4 linked regions of the Homo sapiens genome follow. The protein of the gene in region 3 purifies or fractionates together with the protein of the main gene of each other region. This does not show direct contact. Each region holds a gene or a part of one and is shown on either strand. Other genes may lie near its edges.

Region 1 (7,036 bases), on a different chromosome or scaffold from region 3:
GTCCATACCTAGTTTTCTTTTTTTCTAAATAATAAGTGATCCTCCCACTTCAGCCTCCTGAGTAGCTAGGACTACAGGTGCACACCACCATACCCAACTAATTTTTTGTTTTTAAATTTTGTGTAGAGTCTCACACTCCTGGTCTCAAGCAATCCTCCTGCCTCAGCTTCCCAAGGTATTGAGATTACAGGAGTAAGCTACCTAAAGCTGTTTTTTAAAGCCATAACTTAAAAAAAAAAAATCAAACTACAGCCTGCAGCAATCACTGATGGTCATTCAGGTCACCCATTTAACAAGATCCCACTGAATTTTCCACCTTACATCATAAGTTTCTGATCATCAGCAACAGATCCAAACAATGACTCGTGCAGCAGGTGCCAGGCCACATCCTCTACAACAGCTGAGTGGCCAGTAAAGATGGCTTTAGCATCCACAATTTTGCCTTCTTTTGGTCCTGCGTTTATATCCCACAGACAAACAGTCTAAGAGAGAAGGAGAGAAAAAAAAAAGAACAAGGGCTATAAGAGACTGATTTTTTTTTTTTTCCCTCGAGACAGTGTCTCAGTCTGTCACCCAGGCTGGTGCGATCTCGGCTCACTGCAGCCTCCGCCTCCAGGGCTCAAGCGATTCTCCTGCCTCAGCCTCCTGAGCTGGGATTACAGGTGCAAGCCACCATGCCTGGCTCATTTTTTTTGTATTTTTAGTAGAGACGGGGGTCTCACCATATTGGCCAGGCTGGTCTTGAACTCCTGGCCTCAAGTGATCCGCCTGCCTTGGCCTCCCAAAGTGCTGGGACTACAGGTGTGAGCCACTGTGCCCGGTCAAGAGATTGAATTTAAATGCTAACATCTTATTTAAAATAATTTCATTACAAACAAAACTATTCAACTATATAAGTTTGAGGTAAACACAAGAGAGAAAATATAAGCAAACAGAAGAGTATGTGGCTGCAGCCTCCATGTGAGGTGCAGAGGAAAAGGACACTCCACTGTAATGAGGGGGAGGGGAGACTGAGTACAGTGGCAGGCAAGGACACTGATGCTGGAATTTCTACCTACATACATTCAGACATTCAAGTACCCCAAATTCACTTAGACAACACAACAAATCACCAAGAGCCCGGCGCTCAGCATCTACTGAACACAAATGCACATCCTAAAAGTTTACACTGGGATGGGAAGACTGGGAATTAAAATTAAACTCTGCCTCTCACATAGCAAAAGCCTCATGGACAAGTCTTTCACTTCATGGCAGAAACCACCACAGACATCAGGAGATGGGACAGGTAAACGACACTGGGCCAGAAACCTCTACTAGTCTACTCTGAGAGGTCAAGGCCTGGCGCCCACAGACAGATCCCCAATGATGTGCTCCTTGAAACGTCAGCAGAGCCCAAGCAGAGGCCATGGGGCCTCTGCTTGGGCCTCAAAGGTCACAGCAGCCCACAAATAAGGAGGCCTCATGATGTGGGCCTTGACATCCTATCACAGAAAGAGTTAAGAGGAAAGTTTTAATGAAAAAATATTGCAAGGTATAGGGCAACGATTCTCATTCAATAGTTAATAAGAAATAATACCATGAAGGTATATTAGCACTAATTATAGTTCCACCGACACTGGTATGGGTTTTTTTTTTTTTTTTAATTCATAGCACGTGATCATGAAAGGGCTTCATCTGTTTTTATTAAATCACCTTTTTTTTTTTTTTGAGACGGAGTCTCACTCTCTTGCCTAGGCTGGAATGCAAGGGCACAATTTTGGCGCACTACAACCTCCGCCTCCCGGGTTCAAGCAATTCTCCTCCCTCAGCCTCCCGAGTAGATGGGATTACAGGTGTATGCCACCAAGCCCAGCTAATTTTTTTGTATTTTTAGTAGAGACGGAGTTTCACCACGTTGGCCAGGCTGGTCTTGTACTCCTGACTTCAGGTGACCCACCCACCTTGGCCTCCCAAAGTGCTGGGATTCCAGGCGTGAGCCACTGTGCCCAGCCACATGAAGGACTTTCTGTAACAAAGCTATTTCCCAGTAATGGCTATTTTCCCAGTAACAAAATTTTTTTTTACACAATACATATGCCCTCAGTCTCTGTTGTTACTTACACATGAAGACACTCAATGTGTGTGAACTGAAGAGAAAGGAACATGTGGTGCTCCTGCCATTCACACTGACTCAGAAGGACCTGGCAAGATTAGCATGATGCTTGGCATGTGGGTAGCCCCTGGTAAATGTCAGCTATTATTATTACTACCAATTCCCAGCCTGGTCTCTTCAAAAGGTACTAGTAATTGGGTTACTGAGTACAATCCACTTATCCACTTTCCCTACTTGGGAAACCGTCTCATACACACTTTGAGGGAAGCATCCTTTCAGAGAGCCTATAATCCCAGCTCTTTGGGAGGCCAAGGAAGGTGGATCACTTGAGCCCGGGAGTTCAAGACCAGTTTGGGCAATACGGCAAAACTCCATCTCTACAAAGAATACAAAAATTTGCTGGGTGTGGTGGTGGGCGCCTGTAGTCCCACCTACTTGACAGGCTGAGGTAGAGAACCACTAGAGCTGGAAAGGTGGAGGGTGCAGTGAGCCGAGACTGAGCCACTGCACTTCAGCCTGGGTGACAGAGCAAGACCTTGTCTCAAAAAAAAAAAAAAAAAAAAAAAAAAAGTGAAAAGACAACAGAATGGGAGAAAATTTTTGAAAATCATAGGGACTTATACCTAGAATACATAAGAAACTCTTATAACTTGACAATAAAAAGACAAAATTAAAATATGGACAAAGAATTTGAATACCTATTTCTCTAAAGGAGATATGCAAATGGCCAGTAAGTACAAGAAAAGATGCTCATCATCATTAGTCATCAGGGAAATGCAAATTAAAACCACAATGAGCTGGGCGTAGTGACTCATGCCTGTAATCCCAGCACTTTGGGAGGCCAAGGCAGGAGGATTGCTTGAGCCCAGGAGCTCAAGACCAGCATGGCCAACATGGTGAAACCCTGTCTCTACTAAAAGTACGAAAATTAGCTGGGTTTCATGGTGCATGGCTGTAATCTCAGCTACTTGGGAGGCTAAGGCAGGAGAATCGCTTGGACCTGAGAGGTGGAGGTTGCAGTGAGCTGAGATCGTGCCACTATACTCCAGCCTGGGTGACAGAGACAGACTCCGTCTCAAAAAACAAACAAAACAACAACAACAACAACAACAACAAAAACCAACTCCCCACCCCCAAGCCAAAAACAAACAAAAAAAAACCCAGGAAATACCACTTTATGCACACTAGGATAGCTATAATAAAAAAGACAAGCATTAGTGAGGATGTAGAGAAACTGGAACATTTGTACATTGCTTGTGGAAATGTAAAATGGAAAGCCACTTTGGAAAACAGTTTGGTAATTCTTCAAAAAATTAAACAGAGATACCATATGATCCAATAATTCCACTCCTAGGTATATATCCAAGAGAAATAAAAACATACATCTACACAAAAACTTGTAAACAAATGCTTGTAACATAATTCAAAATAGCCCCAAAGTAGAAAGAACTCAAATGGTTCATCAACTGACAAATAAGCTAACTGTGGTATATCCATACAGTGGAATATTGTTCATCCATAAAAAGGAATGGAACATAAGTAATGTTACTTGAAAACATTATGCTAAGTGAAAGAAGCCAAACAGAAAAGGCCATATATGAGATTCCATTTACATGAAATACCAAGAACAGATAACTCTATAGAGACAGAAAATAAATTAGTGCTTACCAGGAGCTGGGGGAAGGCAGGGAATGAGTGGGGAGTCACTGCTTAATGGGTATGGAATTTCTCTTTCAGAGAGCGAATGAAAACATTCTAGAATTAGTGGCAATAGTTGTGCACCTTTGTGAATATACTAAAACCCACTGAACTGTACACTTAAAAAATACTTTATATTAATCAGGTCCCACAAACACTCTACAGTTTCCATTTTAAGGGCCTGGAGGGTCCTCTTTTAAATAATGGGAGGCCTTTTGCCTATGCTCCCTCCATTCTAAGGCTACTTCAAAAGAGCTCTGTGGAATCCGAAGACTCATACAGGGCAGTATGAAAACCATCTCTCTAAAGTCCTGGGGGAATGTTACCACAATAATCAGCAGTATTATCTTAGAAAACCTTTCATCTATATAGTACTCCTTCAGCACAGCTGTGACACGTCAGCTCTCACTATATGAACAAATTACAAAGAATACGTTTCTCACATGGTCATCAGATGCACTTAGGAGATGTCCACTCAAATTTGAATTCCAGGAGAGACCATAGCCTTCCTTCTGGTGACCTCTTAATCTGAGATCAGGATTACATTCTCCACTTGGGTCTAAGAAAAGATGAAAAACATTAAGTTATTCTCTGTTTATCAGAACTGGTGAGAATAAATTCTCACTCCTTCATTGAGTGAACCATTACAGCAACTGCACACGAACGAGATCTGGTCTTTAATACCCAATGCAAATTGAGCCTCATGACCATTAGATGATTGGTTTCTTTGGAAAACCTAATACTATCCCCAACACAAAAATATTAAAAACTATAGCTATCCTACAAATTTGGGCAGTGGTGACCGTATCCCCGCAACCCCCCAATTTTTTAGAAATATTTCTAACACAACAGGTCTGGTTGCTCAGTCCTTGCATGCCTCTAGGGTAGCCTGCAACCATAAATGACCCTTGGCCAACCCCTGGGAATGTGACCCTCAGAAAGTTCTTCACGTCACTGACTGATAAAGTTTTGTAAGCCCAGAGCAGTGGGGTATGCCATAGGGACCTGTCAAGACTTGTAGGATTGTTTAGCAAGATTCACAATGTATTTGGCTTCACTATTGGGGTCCTCAATTTTGTTACCATGGCTGGTCATAGAACAGGATGTGCCCACGCCAACAGACCTCCACAAAAATCCCAGATTCTGAAACTCAAATGGGCTGCCCTGGGTAGAGACATTTAGCACATGTTCCTATGGTTTGCTGCTAGAGACAAAACATGTCCCACGTGGCCCTGGATGGGAAGGACTCAGACGCCTGTAGCTAACCCCTCTGGACTTCCCCTGATGTGTATCTTTTTCTTCCTACTCTTGCTCTGGATTCTTTGCTGTAATAAACTTTAGCTGTTAGTATAAGCTGCTTTTAGGTAGTTCTGGCAAATCCCTGAACTTGAGGATGGTTATGGGACCCCCAAAGCAATTTTTAAACCTTTAAATATTATAAAGTATGCTACTTTGACCTTAAAAACATTACCAGTTTGAATCAAGAAAACTGCTCAAGTAATGACCTAACTCTATTATTACATACCTGGTTTAGCAGGGTGTTTTGTATAGTCAAAAACCAACACATCAGAAGATGGTGTTTTTGTAGCAATGATGTGAGGATTCTGCGGCATGTAACGAGCACGGTTTACTTCTCCTTCGTGATTGATTTTAATTTCACATTCAATTTTTCCTGTTACAGAACCAAAGCCACCAAATTCTAATGTGAGGAGAAAGAAACACACACACACACACTCAGGATTAAAATTCACAAATCACTTAGTTCAATCAACCTAACAGATTTTGACCTGGCAGAATACAACACAAACTGACAAGACAAAGACAGAAACATGCATAGAGAAAACCCAAAAATGTGGGTTCATTTGCCACATCAATTTATTCTTAAAGCCCATTTGCACTGGAAAATATTGGTAGCTGCCTTATGCAACTTAATTCAGTTCCACCTTGGATCTAAAACAACTGTCCTCTTTCAGTTATGAAGATGATATAGTTATTCACTGAAATTTCAAGTAACCATATAATAAGCAGACCAATAGCTTTTTAGTTCAAATACAACTCACTGTAAGTACTGCACTGAATTAGCATCTTATTTTAGGATTCATCAAAACAGGAAAGGTTTTAACCCTCCACAGTATGAACACCCTTTGAGTCTGAAGTCAGAAGCATCCTCAAATCAATCAGAAACCCACGCTAACCCCTACCTGTCCCTAAACACACATACATTGGCCCTGCCAGCATACTTGGTTTAACTGCTAGTGCAGTGCCAAGGTTAACCTCTCCGCCCATCTGGTGTGTGAATAAGACTATAGTATTAAATAATCATGAAAAAGGCCTTGTAAAGTAACAAAGTCATATAAAAAGTACGGTAACTTCCAAGAAGTAGCAACATGTTAGCAGAAAGAATACAAGTAGAGAACATCTAAGCAAATACAGCAAACAAGAACATTCTTTTTTGTGCTCATAGATAAAAAAACCTGAATTAGTTGCTGACGCTTAAAAAGATAGGAGGGTTCACATTACAATTGTGTTATTCTTCCTGACCTATATTGCCTTTTCTTTGCACATTCCATTTTAGCTCACCCTGTGTCTCAGGTCAGGGACAACTAACACAAATGCCTACTGGAGCCAGACAGGTAAGAAGTAAAATAGACCGGGGCCTGGAGCAACCACCAAAAGGAGCAAACCATTTCTCAGTTCCAGGCAGCTCCTTCTATGTGGAATGCTTAATGAACACTCGCTTCCATGTCTTAATATCAGTATCTAGCCGTTCCTCTCTGAAGCAAACATAGCTTACTATTTCAGTGTGGTTGAAAAAACCGTATCTCAAATCCACGATTACTCCAAAGCTCCTCTACCCACTACTCTCATGTGACCACATGCAAAAGGATCCTTTTTCCTCGTAGCACCTTCTGTTCCATGGTGTCAATGGAAGAAATGTGCCTCGGCATGCTAAGACCCCTCCTGATCCAATCGTCTCCTCCCTCCTGAGACTGCTCCAAATCTGCTCCACTTTGACCTTCAACATCCCATTCCATGGACTCCAGTGGCTCTAACCCTTCTGCTACAAAGATACTCAAGTTTCCTGATTCCTTTAGCTAAAACAACCTGAAGAGCTCTCCTTTAAAAAAAAAAGGGGGGGGGGCGGGGCTTCCAAGTAGGATTTACTTTGAACACAGAGTTTTGTTTTCTCAAACTTAAAATTTTGAAAAGTCACTGTCTTAATGATAATATCCATTAAAAAATGTA
Region 2 (7,036 bases), on a different chromosome or scaffold from region 3:
GGTCCAGTCTACTCTTGTTACTCTTCACCATGTAGATGAAGTAGGCAAGGGTCTCTTTTTCATTCACAGGTATGTTCCTGAAGTGTCGACTCACAGTCTATGTGGGGGGAAAATACCAAAGTTCCTTAAACCATGCACAAATCACACCGCAAATTCTACATTGTACAAAGAAGCGAATGGAGTTGTTTGCATGCTGTGGCGGGAATGACAAATGCTGAAGAACTTCCTGCCATGTGCGGAACTCAGAGTGCCCTTTGCCCTTCCTCCCCAGGGATGTAGGTGGTTTAATTTCCAGGATCCAAAAGTGGCTTTTTAACCTACAACTCTTCCAAGGTGCAGTTCTATTTCAGTGGCAGCCAACCACCTGTCATGGCATGATTTCACAGTCATACTCATGGAGGAGAGACTGGGACTGCTCTGGTTGGCCAGCTGCTACCAAACCTCTCAGGCCTTGAAAGTGGGAAGAAATGTGTCTTTAAAAAATTGTGGGGCAGGCGTGGTGGCTCACACCTATAATCCCAATGCTTTGGGAGGTTAAGGTGGGAGGATTAGTTGAGGCCAGGAGTTCGAGACCAGCCTAGGCAACACAGTGGAGAACTCATCTCTACCAAAAAATTAGCCAGGTGTCGTAGCATGCACCTGTGGTCCCAGCTACTCAGGAGGCTGAGGTGGGAGGATCACTTGAGCCCAGGAGGTTGAAGCTGCAGTGAGCTGTGACTGCACCCCAGCCTAGGAGACAGAGCAAGACCTTGTCTCAAAAACAAATAAAAATTGGGTTAGGCTGGGGATGGTGGCTCACACCTGTAATCCTAGCACTTTGGGAGGCCAAGGCAGGCAGATCACCTGAAGTCAGGAGTCCGAGACCAGCCTGGCCAACATGGTGAAACCCAGCCTCTACTAAAAATACAAAGATTAGCCGGGTGTGGTGACAGGCACCTGTAATCCCAGCCACTCGGGAAACATGGAGAAGAATCACTTGAACCCGGGAGGTGGAGGCTGTGGTGAGCTGAGATCATAGCAATGCACTCCAGCCTGGGAGATAGAGCAAGACTCTGTCTTTAAAAAAAAAAAAAAATTGTGTTAAATGAACAGCCAATTGAACAAATTGAACAGAGGCATCTGAACCCCAAAATTCTTCTAAGTAGTGCATAACTGCCTCCTGAAAGACATATCAGGTTTGAAGGAAAATGCATCATTTACTAATGCTCCTAATACTTCATTCCATAAGTAATGAGAATGCAGGTCTCCTCTTGCCCCACCTCATTCTTTCCCTTCCACCAGGGAGAACACTGGCAAATGGGTGATGTTATTTTAAAGTAGGAGAGGCTTCTGACCTCCTGTGTGTCATCTGGACACTGGTGAAGGAGTTGTTTAAGAAAAAGTGACGGTCGAGCAAGAAACCTCTAAAGGAAAAACCAAAAATGAAACAGGCTGGAAGCCTTTCAGGAAATCTCAATGGATCAAGGTGGCTGAAACAGATAAAAAAAGACAGAGAACTAGACATAAAGAGTGGTTATCTCTGGATGATAGAATTATATTTTTCTTTTCTCCATTTTCCAACTTTTCTGTAATAGGCAGAAAAATATATTAAGAAAAGAGGGATTAGAAAATACCTGCAGAAATGACAAAGACAGAATTATCAAGCCAGGCAGTTCATGTATTTTAAAAATGGCCAGTGGAGCATTTCCCCGTAATCCAAACTGTGTTAATAACTCAGGGCAGGAGAAAACTTTCTTGGGTGCCATTCATTAAAATACTGTCATTACCAACACCAGAGTAGGAGAAATCAAGGAAAAAAAAATAGCTCCTGTAGAACATCAAGGTTTTGAAATGATTAATCTGACACACAAAATGATCATATCTAAAAAGCATTTTGCTAAGCCAGGCACAGTGGCTCACGCCTGTAATCTCAGCACTTTGGGAGGCTGAGGTGGAAGGATGGCTTGAGCCAAAGAGAATCACTTGAGCAACATAGTGAGGCTGCATCTCTATAAAAATAAAATTAGCTGTGCATAGGGGTGTGCACCTGTGGTCCTAGCTACTCTGGAGGCTGAGGTGGGAAGGATCACTTGAAGCTGGGAGGTTGGGGCTGCAGTCAGCCCAGACTGAGCCACTGCACTCTAGCCTGGGTGATAAAGCAAAATCTTGTCTCCAAAAAAACAAAAAGAGGAATCTTCCAAAAAAGATTCAAACAAATGAACACTCAGGACTTAGAATCTGGAGTCATGAGATCCCAGGCTCAATTCTGCTATCAACTTGCTGTGTGATTTTAAGCAAATCCTTTCCTCTTTCTGTGCCATGGTTTCTTTTCTGGAACTGAGGCCTTTGCAGGTCTAAAGCTGTGGGGTTCTAAATTGCCAAAGAGGAATACAGAGTTGCTTCCAGAACTCTGGAGGAAATTACAATTAGCAGACACACAAGGTAAGGGAGAATCAGGGTAACCATCAGAAGCAGCACAATGCTGGCTCTCTTTAGAGGGCAATTTTGTCTACCTACTTCTGCTAACTGGGCCTTATTGAAGCCTGGTCTGGTCTGCAACTTGTAGTGTCGTTTATAACGTCGTAGGGTGTTCACCTGCAGCTGGAACAGATCAACCTAGGGAGAAGAGGAGAAAAATGTTATCCATCACCTGACCACCCAGGACTCACCAAGAGCCCACTATGTGCCTAGCACTACACTAAGGTAGGGGTGAGGATGGGGAGGGCTTCAAAAGAGGTCTTAGAAATGGTCTATTGAGGACTAGTAACTGGCTAGGAGGGCAAAAATAACAGTAGAAAAACAGTTCTGGCTGGGGTGGGCTGATCTCACAAAACTGGTGGAAAAGGTAAAGCTTAAGCTAAGGAGGAGCAGGGTCTGATAAAGCACTGAGAAACGGTAGGGAATAGGGGAAAAGATCACAGCACAGAGAGCTGGGAGAGGCACAGATGGGCAAGGGGGTCACAGGCAACTGTGATGAATTTAAAAGGTGAGAATGGATGGTAGCACATCCAGAAAAACAGAAGGAGCTATCACAGAGGGTGGAGGGCGATGGCGCAGGATGGGTCTGGTGGTGGTTGTTGGGAAGACTGATGGGGGGATACGGAGGGAGATGCTATAGCAACAATCAGAATGAGATGAAGAGGCTGAGCTTTGGAGGGGCAGTGATGCTAGAAGGGACACCAAAGATGGAGAGCAAAGGCAAAAACCAGAGACATCCTGGAGGATGATAGGCCAGAACGAGGCAGCGACCGGATAGAGGAGCACAAAGGAGGGCTGTTATCCTCAAATAGCTCTTTGCTAGGCCCAGCCTTCTGGTATTAGAATCCTTAACCTCCCTCCAGAGAAAGTTCAAAAGTTACTGTAGTGAATGTGCAATCCAGCAGGTTAGGGCTGGGGTCTTTGCAGATGACTGGATAACAGAGGGGAAGGGACCCCCCCTTTTTGTTTCTAACAAAGGAAGAGAGGAAAGCTGCATAGTCATGAAAAATTGAAGGCCCATAAAGTTGGGCTGCCTTTACCTGCCTCTAAAAGAGCTGTTCTTGCTTCAGGCAGGTGGAGAGCACTTAAAAACAAAATGAATGATCAATATGAGGGGCCAAAGTCCTTCATTCTTTTTCAAAACATTCCTCAAAACCTTTTTTTTTTTTTTTTTGGTGAAAACCACTTAGAAATCGAATACGTCCATTTCTTTGTAAAATAACAATAACGTTAAAGGCAAAAGCAAGATTCTGTAAACCAACATTGGAAAAGGGGACACAGGGAGGGGCAGAGGGAAAGGGCCAGATTTTCAACGGTTTCCTCCACATCTGCAGACAAAGGCCCGCCTACTCTTTCTATTCCTACACAGTCATTTTCACTCTGAGTGCTAACAGGCGGTTGCCTTATGAAATATTCATGTGTCAAATATTCAATGTACACTATAAACGGTTCTTCTCTTGCTGAGTCTTGAGTGAAAACAATTTAGTAGAAAGAAAATCCAATATTCCTTCCTGAAGCCTCACTTAATAGACACGGGCACCTGAAGGGAAGGCAGCCTTCCAGTTTGAGAAGCCTAGGTCTCATGGTCTAGCGCAGTGGTTCTCAACACAGGACGATTTTGTCTTGTAAAGGAGGTGTGGCAATGTCTGGAGACACGTTTTGATTGTCATGACTCAGGGTGGTGATGGGTAGAATCTCACGAGGGGATGCTGCTGAGGCATGCTGTTAAATATCCTACAATGCAGAGGACAGTCCCCACAACAAAAATTAGCTGACCCCAAATGTCAACAGTGCTAGAGTTGAGAAAACCGGGTCCAGTTTAGTCAACTTTGAAATGGATCCTTGGGAACAGCCTGGACTAGATGTCAAGAAATCAGTGAGAGAAAATCAGAGCTGGTATGAACTGATGACTTACACCTTCATTTTTTGGGGAAAAGACTTCTCCCAAACCATTATACACTCTCTAAAGGCATAAACAAGGTTTAAAAAAAAGTGACACTGTGGTTGTATTTACGCATTCGTCAGGGGCGTCTTGCAGAAAAGCAGTGTGGTCTACTGGAAAGGGCCCTAGACTAGAGCCTCCAAACTATATACATGACCTCGGCTCTCTGTGCCTGTCTGTAAAATGATGGGGCAGTCTGACCAGTGGGTGTCCAAGCTTTTAGCTCTCAGATTCCATATTACTATAATTCACTTTTCAAATAATCCACAGCAAAACAAAAGGACTAAAATTACTTCTTAACACAAAAAGCAGACCAGGCCAGAGGTGAGAATCAGATTAGAATCCATTCTTCCAGCTTCCGCAACTGGTTTCTTTGACCTTTACCTCAGGAATGTCAGTGTCGTGCTCGGGAGAATCTCCGCCATCGTCACTTGTCTTCCTCTTCCTTTTATTTCGGACACTCTGGATGAAATTTTTGTGAAAATCACAGATATATAGGTGCCTTACCTGATGGAGACAAAAATCAAAGTCAGAGTTGGCCAATTCCTTGGAGACAGCAATAGGTATCTGTCGAATTGCGGGGCTTCCTTCCATTGCAGGGCATTGGAGAGATAGATGGAAGACAAGATGTAGGCCATCATTCCCAGAAGCTCACTACTGAGTTGCAGAACACAAAGAGAATGCTAACATCACACTTGGCAGCGTATCATACACCAAACTTCCAGTGAATGGTGAAGACAGTAAATGGTACAGATTCAGCAAAGGAAGAGATCCCTGCAACAGAGATGCTCAGGGTGAAGGGCCCTGACTAAAAGGGAGGACTTTAGGCAGACAGGAAGCATTCCAGATGGGTAGGAGTGCCAAGACTTTAGAGTTTCCAATGGAGGATGACAGAAAGAGTGAGGAGGCCCAGGGTACAGTGTCAGTTGGGTGATGATGGCTGCCCATGTAGGAGCATAATGAAAAAGTGAGGCATCAGGGGGGTGGGCATGAGAACAGCTTAGACTTTCCTTCCGACAAGACAGAGTCCCTCAAGGAAGCAGGAAGTGATGTGACATTTTTAGAAGACCTGTAGGAGTCATAAACTTATAGTCGACTGGAATGTACTGTCCTGGGGAGGAGGAAAGCAGGACACAAGGGACTGTTGCAACGGTATTTGGGACACTCTATTTTTACAATTACAATAGCTACTATTGTAGGATAATAACTCTTTGAAAAACTTTGTTTCTATGTGTCAATTTATAATTCTTGCATTATCTCACATCTGATCCACAAAGAAAAGTGGAAAAAGATGTGGAAGTTCTTACAAGGTAGAACCACATACAAGAAGGTGGATACTACAGATTTTCTAATACAGGCTGGAGGCACACTGGTAAGTGAAGGTGGCAGCAACAGCTAAGACATGAAGAATCCTCCAAGGCTGGCTGGAGGAACCACTGAAAAACTTTACAGAAACTGAATGCCCAGCAAATGACTTGGGGTTGTTGATACTGAAACAGCTGTTGCACAAATGTTCTGCAGAGACTTCTGAATTTGAGTTTATTCCTTAAATCCTTAAAGATAAAAGTAAGCTGGCAGGAAATCCGCATCAATTAATTCAGACCTTTTCATGGAGAAAATAATGAAAACTGTTTATTTATTTATTCAGATGAATGATCACTTTCATGTGGCTGGATTAGTGAGTCATAAGTACTTTTAAGTTTATACTGTGATGGTGTCTTGCAGACAGGAGGTACTCGAAAAATGTTGATGTACCAATATAGGAAGTCTCCTATATCTAAAAGTGGCTTAAGGCTAATGAAAGCCACCACTTAACATGGTTACAAACTGGGATAGCTTTGTCAGATTCAACTCTGTCAAAGGACTTTCAAACACAGCACATGCCACTGTCCCAAAGAATCCCACCTAGCTGATGTATATACTACTGGACATGCTTTTCTCCAGGAAGAAAGCACAACAAAGCACACTCTGCATCCCTGAGAGGAAGCTAGCCCTCCATGTTAGCTAGACTGGCGAGTCCACTCAGATCAACTGCTCCTCAAGTTCACAGTAACAAACTTCATAGGAGAACAGGGAGAATAGGTGGCTTCCTAAAGCTTTGGCTGGGAGATTTCAGATCAGGACAATAGAATAACGGAATCCTAGCTGTAAGAGAACTTAGCAATCACTAGTGCAATCCCATTGACCCCAATCCGTTTTCTAAATGGGTAAAATGAAGCCATCCAGAGTGAGGAAATGACCTGGCCAAGGTCACCCAGGCCTTCTGCCCCCCCAGTACATGTCTTTTCCTACTCCAGCATTTTCCTTTATACTATTCTCAACTTCCACTTTTCTCCAGGAAAAAAAAAGCAGAAATATGTCAACTGGAGGTATATTAGTATTTTAACAGATCACAGAACACTGCCAAAGTCTATATAAAATGAGTTAAACAGCCTGAATTGAATTTCTGGTGTTGTTATTTAAAAAGGTTCTCTGCTAGACTCTCTTACAAGATAAATAATCATTTTCTCCTTAACCATTTTCAAGTACATACTGGTTTTCAGAAATTTCAGAGCTCAGTGGCCTTTGGGAGTGGGGTTGGGGCAGGAGGGTGGTAGCAAAGGCTCTAGTTTTTTTTTTTCCTTCACTTTCTGCAAT
Region 3 (7,036 bases):
TATATCCCTAGGGTAGAAAAGTCTGAAAAGAATAAAGAAAAACACTAGCTGCTGTTCAGATATAATGGCCTAACATTTTGGCATCTTTAGAACAGAATAGCCTGGTGTGGCATTTCCTTAAGGCTGTATCCAATATCCCCCTTCTGGAGATTCACAGTAAGCATTCACCTGTTTTTAGGCTTAACTCAGTAATTCCCAGAGTTAATTAGACATGAATTCTTTTTCTTAAATCTCTTTGGATAACATGATCCTTTGAACTCAGGTTGGTACTAATGAACATGTAGATCAGACTTGAATTTGAATTTTGCCTTTACCACTTACTAGTTGTGGATTTTGGGCAGGTTATATTTATTCATGAAGTGCAAAGATAATAGCTCTCTTACAGAGCTATTGTGAGAACTGGATGAGATGGTGTATAGAAAGTATAACACAGTTATCGTTCACACTAGCCTTACATTGTCCTTTGATGACAGTGTTATGTTATTATAATAGGTCATGATTTTGAAGATGATAACAACCTTCCTTTTTACATGGGGTAGAAATCTGCAGCTAATAAATGTGAATGAATACCTAAGAAACAGGACCATATGGGGCGAGATCAATGGCTGGGCTAGACTGTGGGAGAACATGCTATTGCTGTCGTGTAACTCACCTCAGAGATTAAGGTGTAAAGTGAAAAAAGCATAAAGAATAGGCCTGAAGACCTTGATTCCAATCTTCTCCCCTCTCCACCCCTCTTACCCATTTACTCGCTTGGTGAAATAAGGCAAAATGCATAATTTATCTTTGCCTTGTTTTCCTTCTGTCTAAAATTGGAGTAACAAAAGTAGCTCTATTTTTTGCTTTGTACTAAATATAAAAAGTATATGAAAGCTTTTCGTAAACTGCAAAACATTATCCTGTAGAAATGGAGTTGTTTTTAGGTTTGATTCTTAACCTAGCTGGGTCATCCAGTAATGATTATCCCATATACAAATCTATTTAAATTTTTTTCCAATAGACTCCCACTATTACCCACTTCACAGGAAAGAATATCTTTAAAAACCCCAGTAGATAAATATTATTTATTCCCTTATGTCATGTGATGATTAAAGGTGCACATGGAGCTTCATCCTCTTTTCAGTATAAAACTGTGGTTCTCAAATAGGCACGGATCTGAACCAAAGGGATACACTGGTGTCATTTTAAAAATATTATTAAATATTCAGTATTTTCTTCCAGGTGGTAGATGCAAGGGCTGGACCCAGTCTAAAGACTACATTGAAACCAAAGAAAGTGAAAACTCTATCTGGGAACAGGATAAAAAGCAACCAGATCAGTAAACTGCAGAAGGAATTTAAACGTCATAGTAAGTTTGATATTACAACATTAGTACTTAATAATTGTTTTGTTATTTTTGGCTGGGGGTGGTGTATGGCATGTGTGGATCATTTTTTCCTTTATTGCTTTTTATAAAGAGCACTGGAAGGCAACGTTGACTTGGTAGAGATGTTATCTTATTTCTGTGAAATGTTGGCACTTTTTCTGATTTTGATGTCTCAAGAGAGTATTTCTACTAGCTAACCACTTCAGATTGTACTGAGACCACCCTGATGTCTTTATTGACATCTTAATTTTCTAGAAGGTGCATTTCTAGCTCATTTACTTGATTTTTATCCATAAGGAAATTGAGTCCTGCAGATGTGCAAGAAGGTACGTAAAGGGGACAATCTGAGACCAAAGTCCAGATTTTCTGGAAAGTAACTTTAGAAATCATAACGCACATATTGAAATTCAGCCAACCTCAGGGCTTGCTTTCAGGTTTAAGGGGCAGTGTGTGTTGTGTGATAGAATGAGAAAGGAATGTCTAATTAATTAATGTCAGGTCACATGCTATTATTGGAAGTTTTGGGGGGTTGCTGTAATGGCACATCTGTATTTTGGAATTGAGATTTTAGATTTTGAAAAGGAAATACACTGCATATAATGTTATTGTCTAATAAATATCTCTATTACCCTTGGGGTTTGAAGGAGCATTATTGAACCAAACACATTAGTATTTTTACAGCAAAAAGTAGCAGTATTCACATTTAGTGGAATAAATAGATGGTACATAGGCTAGTCAGGTTTGTCTGCTTATAGTCATAGTTTAGGTCATGCCAGATTTTGTGGCCAAATAGGTTAGGAATATACTTTCTGTTTCCAGAGCTTTCTCAGAATTGCGGCTAGGGGTTGTGGATCTCTATTGGAGCTCTCAGTACTTTTAAAAAATCTATAGGGCCCTGTTAGAGAGAACATTATCAATCAAGACATGGTTATCATGCTTGTTTTAGAATAATGGAAAAAGACATCTAAGTTTAGTGACGGTAAAGTGAGGAGTGCAGGAGAACTCAACATTTTTTGAGCATTTTGGTATACTAAGCACTTTACATATGTAATCTCAGTTATTTCCATCTTAGAGCTCAGAATAGGAGGCACAAAGAGGTGATTTAAACTTGATCTGGGCCACTTAATAAGTGGTAGAGATGTAAAATATTTAGGAAATATAAATTTGTATATGTATTTTAATTATACACTTACCTTTCCTAACCAGCTCTCAACCCCCCATCTCCCTAAAGATTTAACTCTACCTTCCATTCTCACTAGATATTTTCTTTTATTTCTTTTTTTTTTTTGAAACAGGGTCTCGCTCTGTCACCCAGGCTGGAGTACAGTGGTGTGATCTTGGGTCACTGCAGCCTCTGCCTCTGGGGTACAAGCAATTCTTGTGCCTCAGCCTCCTGAGTAGCTGGGACTACAGACATGCACCACCATGCCTGGCTAATTTTTGTATTTTTAGTAGAGTTTGGGTTTTGCCATGTTGCCCACGCTGGTCTCAAACTGAGCTCAAGCAATCCACCCACCTCGGCTTCCCAAAAGTGCTGGGATTACAAGTGTGAACCATCACACCCAGTCCTCACTAGATGTTTTAATGAACATTTGGGAAACATTAATTTTCTTTTATCACTTGAAGGCCGAGGAACTGATTATTCATATGTATATTCTTAGCCCTTTCCCTTAATTATAGAGAAAGTGATATCTCACTTTTGTCTTACTTAAGGGAATATTCAGTGTAATTTTAGATTTTTATTATGAAACTGTGCTGTGTAGTAGTTAGAGACTGAAAATAAATTCCTTTGATAATAAGGTGTGTAGATTGTGGAGGCTCAGACTGAAACAGGGTGTTCACCAGGTACAGTATAAATTGCTGGCACCTTTGTGCATTGAAGCAGTTGGGAAACATGTGAATTTTTATATATCACCCACTAAATGGTCTGTGCTTCTGGTTATGTGTTTGCTTCTGTGTATCCTGCACATACCAGGCCTGTATTCTCTTCTTTCTTTCTTTTTTTTTTTTTCTGAGATGGAGTCAAACTTGCTCTGTCAACCAGGCTGGAGTGCAGTGCAGTGGCACGGATCTCAGCTCACTGCAACCTCCCCCTACTGGGTTCAAGCGATTCTCCTGCCTCAGCCTCCCGAGTAGCTGGGATTACAGGTGCATGCCACCACACCCAGCTAATTTTTGTATTTTTAGTAGAGACAGAGTTTCGCCATGTTGGCCAGGCTGGTCTTGAACTCCTGACCTCAGGTGATCTGCCCTCCTTGGCCTCCCAAAGTCCTGGGATTTCAGGCGTGAGCCACCGTGCCCAGCCCTGTATTCCCTTTTCAAGACATTTTGTGGTGTACTGAAAAGGCATTGGACCTAGAGTTACAGATCTGGATTTGAATATCAGCTCTTGTCACTAGCAAATGTGTAACTCTGGAGTCACTTGACGTTTAACCATAATTTTCTAATCAGAGAACTGGGGATAATCAAGTAAAAAATGGCTTTGTAAAACAAAATAAATTCGTCTATAAATGTTAGCTATTCTTTTTGTGTCATCCTTTTCAAAATCTGCAGTGATTTCTGCTTACTATAAAATATGGTTGAGAATTCCTAGAAAGTGTTTGAAGGTCCTATTTTTGTTTGAGCTGAGTCAGTTCCTGGAGTGTTTTTGGCTTCCACAGCTTTGCTCATTGACTTTGCCCATTGTCCCTACCGACTTGATGCCATCTAATCACTCCTTGGTGCCTTCTAAATCCTACGTAATTTTTAAGACTTAAAATTGCAGTTTGGGCTGGGCATGGAGGCTTACACCTCTAATCCCAGCACTTTGGGAGGCCGAGGCAGGTGGATCACCTGAGGTTGGGAGTTTGAGACCAGCCTGACCAACATGGAGAAACCCCGTGTCTACTAAAAATACAATATTAGCTGGGCGTGGTGGTGCATGCCTGTAATCCCAGCTACTTGGGAGGCAGAGGCAAGAAAATTGCTTGAACCTGGGAGGCAGAGGTTGTGGTGAGCCGAGATTGTGCTATTGCACTCCAGCCTGGGCAACAAGAGCAAAACTCCGTCTCCGAAAACAAAAACAAAACAAAACAAAAATGGTCAGATAATTGAAATTTCAAATAGTTTAAAGATATTAAGCACTTCCTAGGAGAGTGAGTTTTCCTCAGCAGCATAGAGGTGTCTGTTGATGTTAATTATTTAGGAAGTCTTAAACATCCCACTAGACTCATTTTTTTAAAACCTGCTACTCTTGAGGATTTTGTTTGCTAAGTTAACATATTAAAAATACTAACGGGGCTTTCTTTTAGATACCTAATTTTATGCTGTTTTATGTAAATATTTGTAAATATAAAATATTTGTGAGCTCTATTCAGAAAACGTTTTCTTGACTGGGTGTGGTGGCTCACACCTGTAATCCCAGCACTTTGGGAGGCCAGGAGTTCAAGACCAGCCTGGCAAACATGGCGAAATCCTGTCTACTAAAAATATAAAAAAATTAGTTGGGTGTGGTAGTGCACACCTGTAGTTGTAGCTACTCGAGAGGCTGAGGCATGAAAATCCAAGAGGTTGGAGGCTGCAGTGAGCTGAGATCCAGCCACTGCACTCCAGCCTGGGCGACAGAGTGAGACTCTGTTTTAAACAAACAAACAAACAAACAAACAAAAACAAAAACATTTTCTTGGCTAGGTGTGACCATGCCTGTAATTGCAGCACTTTGGGAGGCCGAGGTGGGAGGATCGCTTGAGGCTAGGAGCTCCAGACCAGTCTGGGCAAATAACGAGACCTTGTCTCTGCTAAAAATTAAAAAAATAACCAGCCGAGTGTGGTGGTGTGTGCCTGTGGTCCCAGCTACTCAGGAGACTGAGACGGGAGGATTGCTTGAGCTCAGGAGGTTGAGACTGCAGTGAGCTGTGGTCATGCCACTGCACTTCAGCCTGGGTGACAGAGTGAGATCCGGTCTCAAGGAAAACCAAAAGATAAAAATAATTAAAAAAAAAAAAAAACCCAAATTTTCTTTAGTCTGTTTCTTTCCATGCAGCATGTAACATAGGATTTGATGCCTTATAAATATTTAATAAGTACTTGATTGGTTATCTGAATGGAAGGATTGCTCTGTCAACGTGTCCTGGGATGGGCAAGGTGTATGGTAGGCCCCACCTGTGTTTATGAGGTTTATGATACTGCTCTTGCTGTGACGTGGCAGTACAACAGCCTTATAGCACAATGACTGTTAACTAAGAAACTTATTTTCTGGCTTGTACATTTATCTGACATCTTCACATAAACAGGCAAAGTATTAAATCAGGGTTAGCTCTGCATCTAATGAACTGCCTTTATTCCTTATTAAATCAGGATCTTTTGTTTTCTCTTTATAGGTATAATGTCATTATTCTTTGGCTGCTTTCAAGATTTTTCTCTTGGTTTAGTTTATAGAGGCTTAATTATGACGTGTTTTGGCATGGATTTCTTTGGGTTTATTCTGTTGGGCTTTGGTTAGCTTCTTGAGTCTTAGGTTTATGTCTCGCCAAATTTCACAAGTTTTCAGCCACTATATTTGAGTACTTTTTCACCTCTATTCTCTTTTTCCTCTCCCTCCAGGACTGCAATGACATGAATGTAGATGTATGTTTGACTAAGCTCCACAGGTTTCTCCTGCTCTGTTCATTTGTTTTCTGTGTCGTTCATATGGGGCAATTTCTGTTGTTCTTTCTTCCAGTTCACTGTTTGTTTTCTCTCTCCCCTCCATGTTGCTCAGCCCATCCACTGTGGTTTTTATTTTCTTTATTGTATTTTTTTCAGTTACAAATTTTCCATTTATTTTTTCCTTATAGTTTTCTATCTTATTTTTACTGAGGCTTCCTATTTCTTTGCCAAGCCTATGTTTTCATTTATTTCAAACATGTTCATAATTGCTCACTGAAGCATTTTTGTCGTGGCTGCTTTAAAATCTTGGTCAGATAATTCTAATGTCTTTGTCATCTTAGTGTTGGCCTTTTCATTTAGTTTGAGATCTTCCTGATTCTTGGACTGATGTAATTTTTTATTGAAACCTGGACATTTTCAGATTATGTTGTGAGACTCTGGGTCTTATTTAACCCTTCTATTTTAACTGGCTTTTTTGACACCCCTCAGGGCAGGGAAAGAGGGAGGGGCCTCACCACCCTATTACTTACCGCCAGGTGTTAGAATTCCAGTTTCTCTCTCAACCTCCATTGACATCTGAGGTTGGGGGGAGGGGGAGGCTCCTTGTTACTACTGGATGTCAGGAGAGAGTTCAGGCTACCACCTGGTGAGGGTGGCCTTGTACTTAGTGGGCCATAATGAAAATCCTGACTTCGCTAGGCTTCCTCTGACACCACCCTGGTATAGGTGTTGGGGTGCTTCCTAAGTCTTGTGAGGGTGGAAATGTAGGCTCTTCACCTCAGCCTCTGCTGGGGTTAGGAAAGGTGTCCACAGTTTTTTCCGTGGGTTTGGCTGGAACAGGAAGGTTAGTGTTCAGAAATGTTTTCTGTCTGGCTAGGCTGCCCTTTTCCTAGTTCTTTGCTAGAGAGATCAGGTTTTAATTGGGGTTTTGGATTTTTGTTTTGTTGTTGTTGTTTTGATTGTCTGTACACATTGGCATTTCTGGGTGGCTGCTGTTTCACTTCCAAAGCTGGGGATTATGAGGCAAAAGGAAAATCCAGAAAA
Region 4 (4,115 bases), on a different chromosome or scaffold from region 3:
ATACATGTTAATTTTTTCTAGGTTGATTTATACCAATTACAAGTAAATACACTTAGGAGATACAAAAGACACTTCAAGCTACCAACCAGACCAGGACTTAATAAAGCACAACTTGTTGAGGTATATATGAGTTTTAAACTATTTGAACTATCTGCACAACCGAGAGGTTATTAAGTGCTAATGGAAGTTTTAATGTAGTGTATGTAACAGTACATTTTAATTAGAAAGAACAAAGTTAAAAAATCTGTTGTGGAAGAATCTAGTTGTGTAGAAATGTTTGTCTGCCACTTAGGAAATTCCTTTTTGTAATGACTGCTTAGTAGATTGTGTACAGCACCTTCTGATACTGGCTTTCAAAATGTGTTGATTGTTTTTTGAGACAGAATCTCACTCTGTCACCCAGGCTGGAGTGCAGTGGCATGATCTTGGCTCATTGAAACCTCTACCTACCAGGTTCAAGCAATTCTCCAGCCTCAGCCTCCCAAGTACCTGGGACTTCAGGTGTGCACCACCACACCAGGCTAATTTTTGTATAATATTTTTAGTAGAGATAGGGTTTCACCATGTTGGCCAGACTTGTTTCAAACTCCTGACTTCAAGTGATCTGCCCACCTCAGCCTACCAGAGTGCTGGGATTACCAGTGTGAGCCACCGTGCCTGGCCCTCAAAATGTTGAATGAGAGTTTTTTTAATCCTCACTTTAGAAATCTATTAATTTTAAAACTCCGTTTAACCAGTAAACATTTGAGCACCTAATTGAGGCATAATAAAATTAATTAACAAGCTTTAATGTCCTTATTAGAATTTATATTTTAAAGTGGTGGAATAGGCCTACAAATCAGACCCTAAACAGTATTTTTATAATTTGCTGACTTAACTATTTCAAAATTTGTCCTTGTTGATGTTTGTTTTATTAGAGACATCCATGTTTTTTTCACATCTAGAAGAGGCAAAAGCTTTTCTTTTACCCAAGCTTTTACTTGTAGTTTGCTTTGATAGAGGACTTCTAGTCAGTCACTGAGTTGTGAAAAGTTAACGGAGCATGCATATGTTTTCAGGATATAATAGAACCAAGAAATCTGTGCATCTTATTAAGATGTTTATAGATTTATATATATATATTTTAATCATATTTAAAATAAAAATTTTTACTTGCAGCTACTGAGGAGGATTGATTAAGCCTAGGAGTTTGAGTCACCATGGGCAACATAGCAACACTCCATCTCTAAAAAAAGAAAATTTGGCCTACTAGACAAAATAGAAGTGTAGAAATATAAATCAGTTTTCTCATATTCTTTGCATGGATTTAGTAGTTACCCAACATTTTCTAAAATGTGCCTATTGAATAAAATGAAATATGAATAGAAGTTACATTTATTTGGCAGAATGCTTTTTAACATTGTTAAAATCTAATATATTAACTATTTAGCTAAAATTTTTTATCCTTGGTTGGGCAACACAGATCTAATTAATTTTTCTTTAATTTTGATTTAAAAGATCAAGTTCTTTTGGGGTTGTACAATACATTAATGTAACATAAATATAGTTATTGCCCACCATGATGAAATATTTCAATAGGTACTAATGGAGTGAAGGCACCCCTGTTTTGGGACAAATGAGAACCAAAGAACTGATTATTTTAAATGTTATATTTAGGTATAAATTAAACCTGTAATTTTTGATAAACTGACCTTCTAAGAACAGTTATATTATTTCCAGAGCTATTTTCTTTTTTATACATAAGAGATAGCCATGAGTGTTATATTTTACTTAATCAGAAATGCAGATATTAGCAAGTTAAGGAATGTGCAGATGTAGTACATATATTTTAAGAGAGGGGTCCCCAACCCCAGGGCCATGGACTGGTACTGGTTGGTGGCCTGTTAGGAACGGGTCCGCAGAGCAGGAGGTGAGCACCAGCTAGCAAGCATTACTGCCTGAGCTCCGCCTCCTGTCAGATCAGCCACAGAATTAGATTCTCAGAGGAGTCCAAACCCTCTTGTGAAGTGCACATGTGAGGGATCTAGATTGTATGCTTGTTATAAGAATCTAATGCCTGATGATCTGAGGTGGAACAATTTCATACCAAAACCAACTCCGCCACCCTCAATCTGTGCAAAAATTGCCTTCCGTGAAATCTATCTCTGGTGCCAAAAAGGTTGGGGACCACTGTTTTAAGGGAATCCAGGGTTGTATGACTAAGTCTTAAGTCTCTTAATTATTGTGTGGATGAACTTTTTTCTTAAGAAATTTTATTTTCTGGAATCTAAATATGCATGTCAGCACCCCAGGTAAGTCTATTATTCTTCTATTAGTAATTGTAGTATGCATGTTATGTTAGCACAATGAAAAAGCAAGGAAGCAGGTAAACATCCTTCATTGAACATCCCTCTTTCTCCTCTCATTTCCATTCATAATTTTTATTCAGAAAAATTTTCAAGGAACCTTAACCAAAGAATGCTACCAAGGTGTGAATGAATGAATATAATTTGCAGCAAACAATTTATATGTTATTGTTGGTTTCTCTACTAGCAAAAGTTTTCAACTTCATACTTCTTTTTCTATCAGTAGAGTCTAAACCATTGCAGGTTTAATGATGCATGTGATCTCTTACGTCTGTTTTATCTCATTTAAAGTTTAAAAGTAAAATCATTTATTCCCTATTCTAGATTCTAATTATAAAATTTATTATTTTTATTTTATTTATTTATCTTTTTTTGAGACAGAGTCTTGCTCTGTTGCCCAGGCTGAAGTCCAGTGGCATGATCTCAGCTCACTGCAACCTCCACCTTCTGGGTTCAAGCAATCCTCCTGTCTAAGCCTTCTGAGTAGCTAGGATTACAGGTGTACACCACCAGGCCTATCTAATTTTTGTATTTTTTTTGGTAGAGATGGGGTTTCGTCATGTTGCTCAGGCTGGTCTCAAACTCCTGGGCTCAAGTGATCCACCCACCTCTGCCTCCCAAAGTGCTGGGATTACAGGCATGAGCCACCACGCCTGGCCCAATTATAAAATTTAAAATAAATAAAAGGAAAATATATTTTCTAATCAATGTATATTAAATTGAGTGGGTCAAAGGGTCCTTTGAAATCACACTATCTCTTGTTCGTAACATTTTATTCTTGAATGCTTTCTGTCTTGTTGATATTTTGTTAAATATAATTTTTAAAGGAAATAGCCCTTATCACATAGCACTTTTTCTTTTGATGAAACCGTATTTTTTACGTAGTTTATGAAACCTGTTATATCTAAAATTTAATTTCCTTAATTTTTCTTTTCTTTGTAGATAGTTGGTTGCCACTTTAGGTCTATTCCAGTGAATGAAAAAGACACCTTAACATATTTCATCTACTCAGTGAAGAATGACAAGAACAAATCAGATCTCAAGGTTGATAGTGGTGTTCACTAGGAGACGTGGAATTGAGACTAATAACTTGGATGTTAACACTGTTTACTGTTTTTTCACATGTAGAAATGTTCTTTGTGTATTTTTTCTACAGAGGATTTTCTCTGATTTTATTTTCTTTGTTTCTGACTCTAATAATTAGTTGGAAACTCATATAAAATGAGCTTTCCTAAATTAAATCTATTTTAAATAAAGGTTATTACTATTATAGTTGCTTCAGTGTATTTATTTTGTGAAACTTGATTTTTCTTTTAAACTGACTAAGAGATCAGTATTGAGATTTTAATGTAAAGTCCTTCATTTTGTAATCCTTTTTTTTTTTTTTTTTTAAACTTCCAAGAAATTAACAGGGTAAGGAGAAGTAACAAATGTAGCACATTTGCATTCTCTGGGACAATCTGACTTGGAAGTGAAGATAATCTAAATAGCATTATTTTTTAAAGTGCTTTATAGGGCTAGCAAATTTGAAAAATAAACTTCTCTTGGAATGCAACTTCTTTTTTATTTCCTTTTTTTTGTTATTATTACTTGATGAAGTACTAGGAAGAACAAATGGTTTAATTTATATACCCACCTCCTTCCAAAGAAGACTTAATGTGCCAGCAAAGATAAACACAATGCTGAAAGTTGAAATAAGAGTATAAAATTAAATAGCTGTTTTTCAAAATTTTGTCTTCGAGAAAAGATATTTATGTGGCATGAATATAG

The links.
Region 1: the proteins of SINHCAF (region 3) and RBBP7 purify together in Homo sapiens (affinity purification with mass spectrometry; 5 studies listed by BioGRID and IntAct, with this or other methods). This does not show direct contact.
Region 2: the proteins of SINHCAF (region 3) and SAP30L purify together in Homo sapiens (affinity purification with mass spectrometry; 4 studies listed by BioGRID and IntAct, with this or other methods). This does not show direct contact.
Region 4: the proteins of SINHCAF (region 3) and SAP30 purify together in Homo sapiens (affinity purification with mass spectrometry; 5 studies listed by BioGRID and IntAct, with this or other methods). This does not show direct contact.

What each region holds. Positions count from the first base shown.
Region 1 is NC_000023.11:16,853,361-16,860,396, forward strand, and holds part of RBBP7 (histone-binding protein RBBP7), read right to left. Parts: intron 5,490-7,036; coding exon 5,316-5,489; intron 4,350-5,315; coding exon 4,234-4,349; intron 483-4,233; coding exon 322-482; intron 1-321. UniProt on the Homo sapiens protein: Core histone-binding subunit that may target chromatin remodeling factors, histone acetyltransferases and histone deacetylases to their histone substrates in a manner that is regulated by nucleosomal DNA.
Region 2 is NC_000005.10:154,448,961-154,455,996, reverse strand, and holds part of SAP30L (histone deacetylase complex subunit SAP30L), read right to left. Parts: intron 4,907-7,036; coding exon 4,784-4,906; intron 3,542-4,783; coding exon of another isoform or gene 3,524-3,541; exon of another isoform or gene 3,498-3,523; intron 2,596-3,497; coding exon 2,497-2,595; intron 98-2,496; coding exon 1-97.
Region 3 is NC_000012.12:31,288,117-31,295,152, reverse strand, and holds part of SINHCAF (SIN3-HDAC complex-associated factor), read left to right. Parts: intron 1-1,221; coding exon 1,222-1,348; intron 1,349-7,036. UniProt on the Homo sapiens protein: Subunit of the Sin3 deacetylase complex (Sin3/HDAC), this subunit is important for the repression of genes encoding components of the TGF-beta signaling pathway.
Region 4 is NC_000004.12:173,373,918-173,378,032, forward strand, and holds the end of SAP30 (histone deacetylase complex subunit SAP30), read left to right. Parts: intron 1-21; coding exon 22-120; intron 121-3,287; coding exon 3,288-3,410; 3' UTR 3,411-3,615; downstream 3,616-4,115. UniProt on the Homo sapiens protein: Involved in the functional recruitment of the Sin3-histone deacetylase complex (HDAC) to a specific subset of N-CoR corepressor complexes. Capable of transcription repression by N-CoR.